Homo sapiens: one gene and its partners. The protein of the gene in region 3 purifies or fractionates together with the protein of the main gene of each other region. This does not show direct contact. Each region holds a gene or a part of one and is shown on either strand. Other genes may lie near its edges. The genes, in order: PGLYRP3, AMZ2 and CTSO.

Evidence for each region.
Region 1: the proteins of CTSO (region 3) and PGLYRP3 purify together in Homo sapiens (affinity purification with mass spectrometry; one large-scale study listed by BioGRID and IntAct). This does not show direct contact.
Region 2: the proteins of CTSO (region 3) and AMZ2 purify together in Homo sapiens (affinity purification with mass spectrometry, with the first as the bait; one large-scale study listed by BioGRID). This does not show direct contact.

What each region holds. Positions count from the first base shown.
Region 1 is NC_000001.11:153,296,492-153,299,805, reverse strand, and holds the end of PGLYRP3 (peptidoglycan recognition protein 3 precursor), read left to right. Parts: intron 1-68; exon of another isoform or gene 69-166; intron 167-574; coding exon 575-693; intron 694-1,671; coding exon 1,672-1,850; 3' UTR 1,851-2,690; downstream 2,691-3,314. UniProt on the Homo sapiens protein: Pattern receptor that binds to murein peptidoglycans (PGN) of Gram-positive bacteria. Has bactericidal activity towards Gram-positive bacteria. May kill Gram-positive bacteria by interfering with peptidoglycan biosynthesis.
Region 2 is NC_000017.11:68,246,637-68,250,987, forward strand, and holds the start of AMZ2 (archaemetzincin-2), read left to right. Parts: upstream 1-1,406; 5' UTR 1,407-2,069; intron 2,070-3,549; exon of another isoform or gene 3,550-3,551; coding exon 3,552-3,834; coding exon of another isoform or gene 3,835-3,844; intron 3,845-4,157; coding exon 4,158-4,331; intron 4,332-4,351. UniProt on the Homo sapiens protein: Probable zinc metalloprotease.
Region 3 is NC_000004.12:155,950,949-155,955,229, reverse strand, and holds the start of CTSO (cathepsin O preproprotein), read left to right. Parts: upstream 1-1,363; 5' UTR 1,364-1,382; coding exon 1,383-1,517; intron 1,518-4,281. UniProt on the Homo sapiens protein: Proteolytic enzyme possibly involved in normal cellular protein degradation and turnover.

The DNA of each region.
Region 1 (3,314 bases), on a different chromosome or scaffold from region 3:
GGTGTTGTCCAATTTTCTAGCTGGATAAATTTTAGAAGAAGGTGGGTTTGCTTGGACTGTTTTTACAGGTAGTACTTGAAGCTGTGGCAATGATTGTCCAGGGTGAATACGTTGAGTGAGAGAATGGCCTAGACTAGAGTGCGGAGGAGCACCATGTTTGAGGAAGGTAAGGTGGGGTGGGAGAGGGGCCTGAGGGAGCAGCAGGAGGAGGAGAACAAGGAGGGTTGTGGTTGTGGAAGCCCGGGGAAGGGAACATTTTAAGAGAGTGGTCAACAGGGTCAGTGTAGTCTAGAAGTAAAGTAAGTGTCCATTGTACTTAGTGCCAGGAAGCCACTGCTCACCTTGGAGGGGTCAGATTTAGTGGTGTGATGGGAACAAAGGCCAGGTTGAAGTGGACTGTGGTATTTTTTTGTTTTGTTTTGTTTTCTGTCCTTGTCCACATTGGCACATAAGAGATCTCCAGTCAATATTGGATGAATGGATGAAAGAATGAATGAGTGGTTGAAGGAGTGAATGAAGTATTTAAATTCTGTTTCCCAGAGTGACTGTCTTCATTTTCTTTTCCTGACCTAAGCTTCCTGGTGGGCCAGGATGGTGGCGTGTATGAAGGGGTTGGATGGCACATCCAAGGCTCTCACACTTATGGATTCAACGATATTGCCCTAGGAATTGCCTTCATCGGCTACTTTGTAGGTAAGGGGTGAGCATGGGGTAGAGGGGTGCTGGGGGTTGAAGGACCATGCAGCATGTCTGGGAAGCATGGCGGGAAAGGCAGCCCTGTAGTGCCTGGCAGTGTGAATGGAACATTTTAGCTTTAAAGTGGACTCTTAATACAGGATGTCACCAGGATCCCCTTTCAGACAGAGCATTTACCCCCAAATCCACCCATCCCCATGCCCAGCTCCACCTTGCTTTATATCCAAGGCAAACATGGAGCAAGGGGGGAAACGTCTTTTGCAAACTTCAGTGCTTTTATCGCTCAGTTGGCAAATGTGTCCCCTTTCTTGTTAGCCATGGCAACAATTTGGGGAGCACCACTGCCTGTTATGGAAAACCAGTGGGCGGCCCAGTGGTGCTGTATCTGCTTTATACCTGCTCAGAAGTGGTGTGTTGTGCTGCAGTTCTCCTCCAGAACAGTTTTTTATATTTATTTATTTATTTTTGAGATGGAGTCTCGCTCTGTCTCCCAGTCTGGAGTGCAGCGGCGTGATGTCGGCTCACTGCAAGCTCCACTTCCCGGGTTCACGCCATTCTCCTGCCTCAGCCTCTCGAGTAGCTGGGACTACAGGCGCCCGGCTAATTTTTTTGTATTTTTAGTAGAGATGGGGTTTCACCATGTTAGCCAGGGTGATCTCGATCTCTTAATCTCGTGATCCGCCTGCTTGGCCTCCCAAAGTGCTGGGATTACAGGCGTGAGCTACTGCACCTGGCCCCCTCCACAGCAGTTTTTAACCTTCTGGAAGAAACTTTGGCACGGAGGAATCAGAGAAAGCAATGACCTTGTTTTCTTTTTGTGCCTGATTGCCACAATTTACGTAAATGTGTTGGCTATGGTGATGGCGGAATGGGGCGTGGTGGAGGAAGAAAGAAACTGGAATCTAGGTGCTTGTCCCTTCCCTAATCAAGAAACTTTGAGCCCCTAATGACTGATGGGGAAAATGTGTTTTGCAGAAAAGCCTCCAAATGCTGCAGCGCTGGAGGCGGCCCAGGACCTGATCCAGTGTGCCGTGGTTGAGGGGTACCTGACTCCAAACTACCTGCTGATGGGCCACAGTGACGTGGTCAACATCCTGTCCCCTGGGCAGGCTTTGTATAACATCATCAGCACCTGGCCTCATTTCAAGCACTGAAGGAGGCCCCACTCCCTTTGAGACTGCCCTCCCTCCCCTGCTGGGTCTCTCCAACCCTCACCAGCCAAGGTGGCTCAGCACCTTGTGTCCCCCTCCCCTGCCAGCCCATCCTTTCTCAGGTTTGAATGGTCATGTCCTTTCCTGCCAACATCCTCCAGGAGCCCCCAAACCTCACAGCTGGGCATTCACAGCCCTCTTGGTCTGAGTTTAGACTTCCCCTCTCTTTTACCTACCTCTCCCCTGGGCACTTACCTCCTCAGTCAGGCGAGACAATGGGCTGGTCCTTGTGGCATTTCTCTCTCTCTCCCCCCAACCCCTGTCTCCTCTTCTTTCTTTCTTTGCTTCCTTTCTCTTTCTTTCTTTCTTTCTTTCTTCTTTCTTTCTTTCTTTCTTTTTCTTTCTTTCCTTCCTTCCTTCCTTCCTTCCTTCCTTCCTTCCTTCCTTCCTTCCTTCCTTTCACCTTCTTTCTTGCTTTCTCACTCTCTCTCTCTCTCTCTCTCTCTCCCCCTCTCCCCGCCTCTGCCTGGTGAGCCTTCCCTGTTTTCTGCCTGGAAGCCCCCACCCTTCATCCCTCACCCATGACCTAGGTCAGTGTGCCCACCCCCCCTCTCTGCTCACACATGGACTGGTACATATTTGGATGCAGCCCTTACTTAAGGGCTGTAATTATTTATAGATATGATTTATAGATATGTCTGTCCTCTCCTCTGGGTTGTAAGTTTCTCCAAGGGAGGAATTCTATTTTATTCATCTCTATCCTCAGTTCCTCAGCAGTGTTTGGAGTTTAATAGGTTCTACAGATGTTTGTTAAAGAAATGGATGAATAAATGAATGAGTGGACCCAGGTCCCTGTTCACCTTGCCAGTTTGCTTCGGAACTTCCCCTCTGAGGCAGCCTTCCTGGATAGTGTCCCCATCCCACCAGCAGCATTCTCTCTGTTCCTGTTCCCTCCCAGTCCAAGGCTCAGAGCTGGCTCTGGTCGTCTGTCTGTAATGGTGGCTGTATTGTTAGGGTCTCGCGTCCATGTCCCCCAAGAGCACCCTGAAGGCAGGGAGCATGTGCTTCTCTGGGTCAGGCCAGGGCTGTGTCCACACAAGCTGCCCAGTGCCTGCCACTTGCCCTTGCCTGGCTGGGTCCCACTGGGTGTTGGGCTGAGAGAGAGCCCAGAGCCCTGGTGCTCTGTAGCCCTCCCTACCTGGGCTCCTCTTGCCCAGAGGGAAGCTCCTTTTCTTCAGATGGGGGCATGATGACGTACTGCTGTTTACCGGAAGCACGTGAGCTGGCTCTTGTTTTCACGGGTTTTGATCTGGAAACAAGGGAAGGTGTTGACAAAGAGTCAAACTGTGTAAAATATTTGAAGAGATTTATTCTAAGCCAAATATTAGTGACCACGGCCTGTGGCACAGCCCCAGCAGATCCTGAGAACATGTACCCAACGTGGTCAGGCTACAGTTTGGTTTTATA
Region 2 (4,351 bases), on a different chromosome or scaffold from region 3:
CATTTTATTCAAGAATGGGTTCAGGTGAGGGTGGATATGGGCACTGGGTTCAAAGGACAAATTTGGAGAATTCATGATCCAGGAGAGTGAACAAATAAGGAAGGGCTAAAGAGATCCTCGAAGTTGAAAGGTTCAGAGTTAATGTCCTCTAAGGAGAGCCAACAAGGGGTTACAAATGCTGAAGTCATCAAGAAAATGTGCCTGTCTTTCCTTGAGACTGGGAAGGAGAATTAGGATGACGAAAATCCAGAGGATGGTAAAATAGCTTGACTTCAAAATAACAGGCCGGGCGCCGTGGCTCACGCCTGTAATTCCAGCACTGTGGGAGACCGGGGTGCGGGGGGGTGGATCACCTGAGCGCAGGAGTTCGAGACCAGCCTGGGTAACAGGGTGAAAACCCGTATTAAAAAAAAAAAAGCCGGGCGCGGTGGCCCACGCCTGTAATCCCAGCACTTTGGGAGGCCAAGGCGGGCGGATCACTTGAGGTCAGGAGTTCGAGACCAGCCTGGCCAACATGGTGAAACCCCATCTCTACTAAAAATAACAAAAATTAGCCGGACGTGATAGCGGGCACCTGTAGTTCCAGCTACTGGGGAGGCTGAGGCGGGAAAATCGCTTGAACCCAGGAGGCAAAGGTTGCACTGAGCCCAGACTGTCCCACTGCACTCCAGCCTGGGCAACAGAGCAAGACTCCGTCTCCAAAAAAAAAAAAAAAAAAAAAAAAGCAAGAAAAAGAAAGAGAATGGCGAGGCCCAGAGAGACCGAAAGTCCCACCAGAGGGTACAGAGCTAGCTCAGCCCTAATGCCGGCCCCGCGGTGCCTTTCCGAGCTCACGGCCTCCCCTCAGCATCCGGGTTTCGGCCTCGGAGCGCCAGGGACGCCACGAGGACGCGCCCCACACTTGCGCTTCTGGGTTCCAGCCCCCGCGGCCCCCAACAAATAAAGAAGGGAAAGTGCTGAGGGTGACGGCCCCGGGGAGCGCTGCGGCTCTACGTCAACCTGCGGCGGCCGCCGACTCATTTGGGGCCACGCTGGTTGCATTCGTCACGCCGGCGATGCCTCTCAAACCCGCGGCCTGCCGAGGACGTTCCCACACGGGAGACCCCAGCGACGCGGGCGCATCTGTGGCTCTCGAGAACCGGGCCGCGGAGCCGCCGCGAGCGCAAGCGAGGAATCGGCGACTGCGGGGGTGGACAGCTGGGGCTTGTAGTCCCCTCGCTACCCTCTATTCTGGAAGAGGCGGGTCGCGGCCGCTGAACTCCAGCTCTGCGCCTGCCCAGGCGGCCGCACGCTCAGGGGCGTGGCATGGGTGGGTCGTGAGTTGGGCGGGGCCCACAGGGCGTGCGCGACGCAGCGGCGCGGCGCGTGGCGTAAGGGGCGTGGCGCCAGTGGGCGTGGCGTGGCGCAGTGCGAAGGGACGCGGTGCGCATGCGCGTGAGGGCTGCCGCGGGTGGGTGGTATCGAGGCCTGTCGGGTCAGGGCGGTTCGCGGGTGCTGTCAGAGCTGGGCCGGGGCCCCTAGGCAGGGTAGCCGGGTCGTAGAGGCGGGGGCCGGTCGCGGTCGGTGGAGCGGGATGAGGATGTAGGAGGGGCGGACGTGGCGGAAGCCGCGGGGTCCGCGGGGTCGGTGCCTCTAGGGAGCCAGGGAGGCCTTTCCCGAGGCTCCTGGGGAAGAAGAGGCGAAGCGAGAGTCCCTGGGGAACCCCCACTCCACTCCCAGCTGGAGACTGGGTTGTGTCTGCATGGACCAGAGCCCACAGTGCGAGTTGCTATAGGCAACCAGCCAGGGTGGCCAGCTCCTTCCCGTTTGCCCGTGATGTTCTGGTTTTGGGACCAAAGCATCCTAGGCCTCCAGCCCACTGCAGTGACCGAATTCTGCGCCCCCTGCCCATCTTCTCCCGCAGCTTCCCTAGATTAGGCTTGGGAGGCAAGAGGAGGCCTCCTGACCTTTCACACTGCCTTTTTAATATTAAGATGAAGTCACACTCCACAACTTTCTTCCAGCCAGGCCCAGACATGTCCGTCCTTGTAAGTTAAAAGCTTCCATGGGAGCCTTCCTTCCTAATCAAGGTAGGTAGACTACAGGAAGGTACATCTTGTTTTATATTTTGTCCTGTAGAAGTCAGATTTCAGCCCAGTTGTGTAGGAGTGAGGATGAGCCTATGCTTATATCAGAGCTTTGAGTACAGAGACATTTGGTCTGGAATTTTAGTCAGCCTCTTCAACCCCAGAATTTATAGGTTCAATCAGAACAGACATTAGCTTAAGTTTTCCCATCAATCGTCTATCATTAAACTGGCAAAATCTAAATAATTAGAAAATATGACAAAGATGATCCAGACAGAGATGTTCAACTTTTTCCTTAATTCAAAAAGCCTCGTGGTGGAACATCGGACCCATTCAAGAGGAAGGATGAAAGCTCTATATAGGAACACGATGTGAATGGAAGAAACCTGTCATTGTGAGGCTGGCTTTTGATTAGTCATCTGATGTCTTCCCTAATGTGACATGACTTTGAGGCCATAAACTTCAGTGGCTAAGCTGTAGTTTCTCAGCCTGCAGTTAAATTGCAGAAATGATAGGGCTTACATTAGTTTTGTTTTTATTTGATGTTGAAGATCTTTGAGTCACATTAGAAACGATGAGTATTTTTCATGTGGCACTGATGAGTTAATTCATATTATTATTTTTTGAGACAGAGTCTCTATTGCCCAGGCTGGACTGCAGTGGCACGATCACGGCCCACTGCAGCCTCGACCTCCTGGGCTCAGATGATCCTCCCATCTTAGCCTGCCAAGTAGCTGGGACTACAAGTGCACATCACCACATCCGGCTAATTTTTTTGTAGATATGGGGTTTTGCCATGATGTCGAAGCTGATTTCAGACTCCTAGGCTCAAGTAATCCTTCTGCCTTGGCCTCCCAAAGTGCTGGGATTATAAGCGTGAGCCACTGTGCCAGGCCAATATTATTCCCCAAAAGAAGGAAGTTGGGTGTGAGGTCCTGCTCCTGTGGTCACCGTGAGGTTTTTTTTTTTTGTTTTGGACTCTTGCCCAGGCTGGAGTGCAGTGGCACAGTCATGGCTCACTGCAGCCTCAAGCTCCTGGGCTCAAGTGATTCTCCTGTCTCAGCCTCCCTGGTAGCTAGGACCACAGATGTGCACAACTATGCCCAGGGAATTTTTAAATTTTTTGTAGAGACAGGGTCTCACCATGTTGCCTGAGCTGTTCTCAAACTCCTGGCCTCAAGCAATCCTCCTATCCCAAAGTGCTGAAATTACAGGCATGAGCCACCACACCTGGCCACCACTAGTTTTTGTAATGGGAGCAGGTTCCATATGAGATGGAGGAATGGATTTCATGATTGTCTTTTTAATTTCTTAGATCTCCAAGAAATTGGACATGAGGAAACCACTCTAAGTGTGACCACTCTAAAGCATTAGCAATCAGTCATTTCACTCTAGGGAGAAATCAGAGCTGAAATATAGAGGATAGGTAAAGTCCCCAATGTAGATATGTATTTTTATATTTGATTACTTGCTTTTTTTTGTTAGATGCAAATAATACGGCACTCCGAACAGACACTAAAAACAGCTCTCATCTCAAAGAACCCAGTGCTTGTATCACAGTATGAGAAATTAAATGCTGGGGAACAACGTTTAATGAATGAAGCCTTCCAGCCAGCCAGTGATCTCTTTGGACCCATTACCTTGCATTCTCCATCAGATTGGATCACCTCCCACCCTGAGGCTCCCCAAGACTTTGAACAGTTCTTCAGTGATCCTTACAGAAAGACACCCTCTCCAAACAAACGCAGCATTTATATACAGTCCATTGGTAAATACTGGTAATGTGCTGGTTTTGGTTCAGTTTTGCAGTGGCGCTCTTGTCAGGAATAGTCCAGGCTATGGGTCTGATTCAGATGGGCCGTTTTAGGATCGTTTTTGATATTCATTGCGGCGGTACAAGTTTTGTAGCCAAACTGACTTAAAAGATAACATTTTGTTTCTTTTTGTTTCATAGCAACACCAATGAATGATAAAGGTTATTGAAAATTTAGAGTTGGTTTTGTTTCTAATTTGAATCTTCTTACTCATAGACTGGGTAAACACTGAATAATCATCTTAAAGTCTGTTTTTAAATGTTCTTCCATATTGTAGGCTCTCTAGGAAACACCAGAATTATCAGTGAAGAATATATTAAATGGCTCACGGGCTACTGTAAAGCATATTTCTATGGCTTGAGAGTAAAACTCCTAGAACCAGTTCCTGTTTCTGTAACAAGATGTTCCTTTAGAGTCAATGAGAACACACACAACCTACAAATTCATGCAGGTGAATTACACGACTTTGCA
Region 3 (4,281 bases):
AAAGATGACTGCCTATATTTAAATTTCCTGACTCCGTAGGTTGTCAATAAACAGGGACTATGATCTGAAAGCAAAGTTCAGTTTAAAAAGAAAAGTATGTGCTTGTATGAGTCACAAAAAAGGGCTAAGTACAAAAGAACTGCTGAGGTAAACATGAACATCGTTCTGTGAACTTATGATTTAAATAAAATCTTTATCACCACACTTGCCAAGAGCAATATATCTTATCATGAACGTACATAAAAAACTCTTGTGTCTTTCCTCTTAATACTCGGAACATTATTTTTATTTTTATTACGAAGTTTGCATTGGAGAATATTGTAACTCACTGCACCTAGGTAAAAACTAAAGACATAAATCTGATGTTAGTTCTAAAAATCTACAAGGGTAATGATATGAATTTCACAGACATGGAAGCCTTGTTCAGAATAGATGATAATAGAAAGGCTCGGTAGAGCCAGGTTCATGAGTGTGTGACCTGTGCAGAAGTGGGTGCTTAGAAGGCCCATGGCTTGGGTTAATGCTCTGCTGTTGCCGTCTTGAAATTCTTCACAATTTATGAACAAGGGAACTTCATTTTCAGTTTACACGGAACCCTGCAAATTATGTACTTGGCTCTATCTTCCTTTGCAAACGGAGAAACAGGCTTCAAGAGTTTTGAAACTGCCATAATAGATCCAAAAACTGTGTATGCTTTTCACATCTGTACAATTTTGTTACGTATTTATAAACATCTGCTGAATGGATGACTCTATGTATTGGCCCACATCACTTCAGAACTAGGTCTTGAACTTAGGGATTGTGGCAAGAAGGAAAAAGGCAGCTTCCGGTGGCTCACAGGGCAGGCCAGGTGGCTCACACCTGTGAGCATTTTGGGAGGCCAAGGCGGGTGGATCACTAGAGTCCAGGAGTTCGAGACCGGCCTGGGCAATATGGCAAGATCCTATCTCTACTAAAAATACAAAAATAGCCTGGGGTGGTGGCACGCGCCTGTAGTCCCAGGTACTCCGGAGGCTGAGGCAGGAGGCACTTGAACCTGAAGGTCGAGGCTGCAGTGAGACCTGATCTCAACACACACAAAAGAATGACTCTCAGGCTTCTTTTTTTCTAATGGATGGAAGTGAAACCTCGAAAGCACATGGTCAAGTGCCTGACTCTTCCAAAACAAAAACAAAAACAAAAAAACTAGCCTCAGCAAGGAGGTCCGTAGCCTCCAGCTGACCGGATTTTCAGTCACAGAACACCGGGGACCTAAAAAAGGGTCAATCTCAGCATCGTGCACTCAACCCAGCTCCTTCCGCCCCTCGAGCCCAGGCTGGGAGGAGCCGAGGAACCGAAAGAGAAAACAGGCCGCGCGGGCGGCAGAGGAGCCGGGCGCCGCAATGGACGTGCGGGCGCTGCCGTGGCTGCCGTGGCTGCTGTGGCTGCTGTGCCGGGGCGGCGGCGATGCGGACTCCCGCGCCCCCTTCACCCCGACCTGGCCGCGGAGCCGCGAGCGTGAAGCCGCCGCCTTCCGGGTACCGAGCGCGCGCCTCCCCGGGATCTGTCCCTGCTCCCTCACTTCCTGTCCCGGGTCTGGGCTGCGGAAGAGGGCCCCCGAGAGCTGACCCTGCTCGTGGGCACCCGTGGCTCTGCGATGCGTCTGGGGCCCTGAGCTGCGGGTGCAAAAGCCAGCTTCTCTCTCCCCTCTCCTTGTGCCATGGTGTCACTCCCCCATGCCTTTGCTAACCAAAAGACTTGATTTTCCAGAAGAGATTTGTCGCTATGGATTTTTGGGACGCACCCAAATAAATCCATAGATACGTCCAAAGTGTCCTTGGTGGGAAGAAGCACCCCCTTTTAGCAATCCCCTCTATCGTTGCCACTGGCTTCCAAAGCTCTTCTATTTCTCTTTTATGAGAACCAGAAACAGGGAGCAGCCTGTTGGTGGAAGAAACCTGTCGTGTTTTTTTTTCCCGAGGAGGGCGCTAGTGATCAGAAGTTAGAAACAAAGAGCCTGTCTTTAGCCAGATTAAAGAATCCTGATGGTTTATGATTCTCCTTAAACTAACGCACCACTTTAAAAGTTCTTCCTGCCTTGGCGGAGACTGAGTTGAAGAAAAGAGAAGCATTTAATTTCCTTTTCATATTATTATACGAAATATAATATAATTTATATTTTATAATATTTATAATAAATACTTAGATTTGAGTCTAGCATGAAAACTCTGGAAGGGACCAGTTAGCTGAGCACAAATAATGATTTTCCTGAAACCAAGGAAACTGCAAGGGATGCCGATTTAGTGTTCGCCTCACTATGTTCTAGATAGCTGATACTATTTAACACATTTTTAAATTCATGAAAGATGCCATTATCATGATTTAATTTATTGGAAAAGAAAATTCTTTCATTCTGAATCAAACATAAGTCTGAGTTGAGTAATATTGCTCAAGGAAGTGTATCTTTTTTCCTGGTGTTTGTTGGAATTTCTCACAGGATTTCATAGCTGTGCTCTTTTCCCCCGACTCTCCTGGAAAGCTCCAATGTTTAGGAAGGCCAGCCTTCCCTGATTCTGTCCACTCTTACGTTTTGTCCAAACCGAGATGTGTACTGTTATCTCCACTTTATTATTCTTGAGTTCAGTTCTAGCTTTCAAAACCAGAAGTCCTCTTACTCTTTCAAGAACAAAATTCTGGCCTGTATTCTACCCCTATCCTCAACTTACGTTCGTTTTCCTGGTAAACGAAACCCCTTAGGGGAAAAGTCAGTTTCACCTTTATTGGTAACGTATTCATTGGCTAAATAAATAAACACACTGTCAGGCTCCTAAAAATAATATTTCAGGACAAAGCTCAAAGGGCTAGACTTATAAATATATTTTTAACATTTATTTAGATTTTAGATAATTTATAAATATATATGTGTATAATTTATGTAGTGACTCATACTGGTCCTGTAAAGAGGCCATACCCTGATGAATGTCTAGAAAATGTAACTTTTCTCAGGAGAAATACAAAGAAACAGGTTGAAAGATGGAAAGTTGGAAGTGGAGGAGGATCGAATTATGAAGACTCTTAGTACATTTTAAAAACCTCGGGTTAAGAAATACTGAAAAAATTTTCAAAGCAATTGCTGCCTGTAAGAATTTGCTTCATGAGATGGATACCCAAAAAAGAGAACATTGAGGCTTCAACGCACAGTTGCTGGAAACTGAACACCTCTCGGTGCTTAGTTGGACTTTATCCAAGAATGCTTTAAAACCGATTTTCTACCTTAGTGGTCCCCAATCTTTTGGCACTAGGGACCGGATTCATGGAAGACATTTTTTCCATGGACGGGAGGAGGGAAGTGGGGGAGATGGATGGATTTGGGATGAAAGTCTTTCATCTAAGATCATCAGGAATTAGTTAGATTAGTTAGCTGGAGATTGCTGTTCGGACTTGGGATAGAGAGCTGGACAGTGGGAAAGGTGGAAAGGGCCTTGCCTCCTTGGTAACCGTGAAACTTCTTGTTGAAATCAAGTTAATTCATTGGTGAATTGATGATTCAGGGGTTTGCAGCTGAAGATCTGGTTCAAGAAAGTCCTTGATTAATTAGTAATGTCTTTCATGGTCATGGGTTTAGAGAATGGTGAAGGTTTTAAAATTTGTTTTAATCTTAGCCTTAGATAGTTTTGTAAGTTTCCCAGGAATGCACGTTAAATGAAAGTTAGGTTAGCCCATGACTTTCCCACAAAATATTATAGTATTGTTCAGTGAAAACTAGACTCCACTATGGTTTATTATGGGATGCCTCACAAGACACCTGACTTTGGATGGCACCCCTTATCTCTGCACTTTCACTCCTTTAGAAACTTCCAGTGCTCAGGAAGCTCTTAACTATTGGATTTAGCCTACTCTCCTTTGTGCCAAAACCTAGCTATGCCCTCATATTTACTGATGCTCATTATTTTACCACAGAACATTTGGTATTCTTATCCTTTTGGGAGGCACAGACCCAATATTGGATCCAATAAAATTTGCTTGATACACTCACTTTAGAATAATATCTATGCCAAAGTACATGTGATTTTACATAAAATTTCCAAAGCTTTACCTTAAGACCAGTTGCCGTAATGACACAGGTTATATTATTATAAGATTATTTATATATTTAGGAATATTTATTTATGTGTAAATAGATGGCCATAGCATCTTTATAACAAGTGATCCTAACTAATGAGCCACTTATATGTGCTTGCCGTAATCAGCCCCTTGAAATCTGGAATTAGGTCCTCCAAATAGGCTTTATCCAAGAAAGCT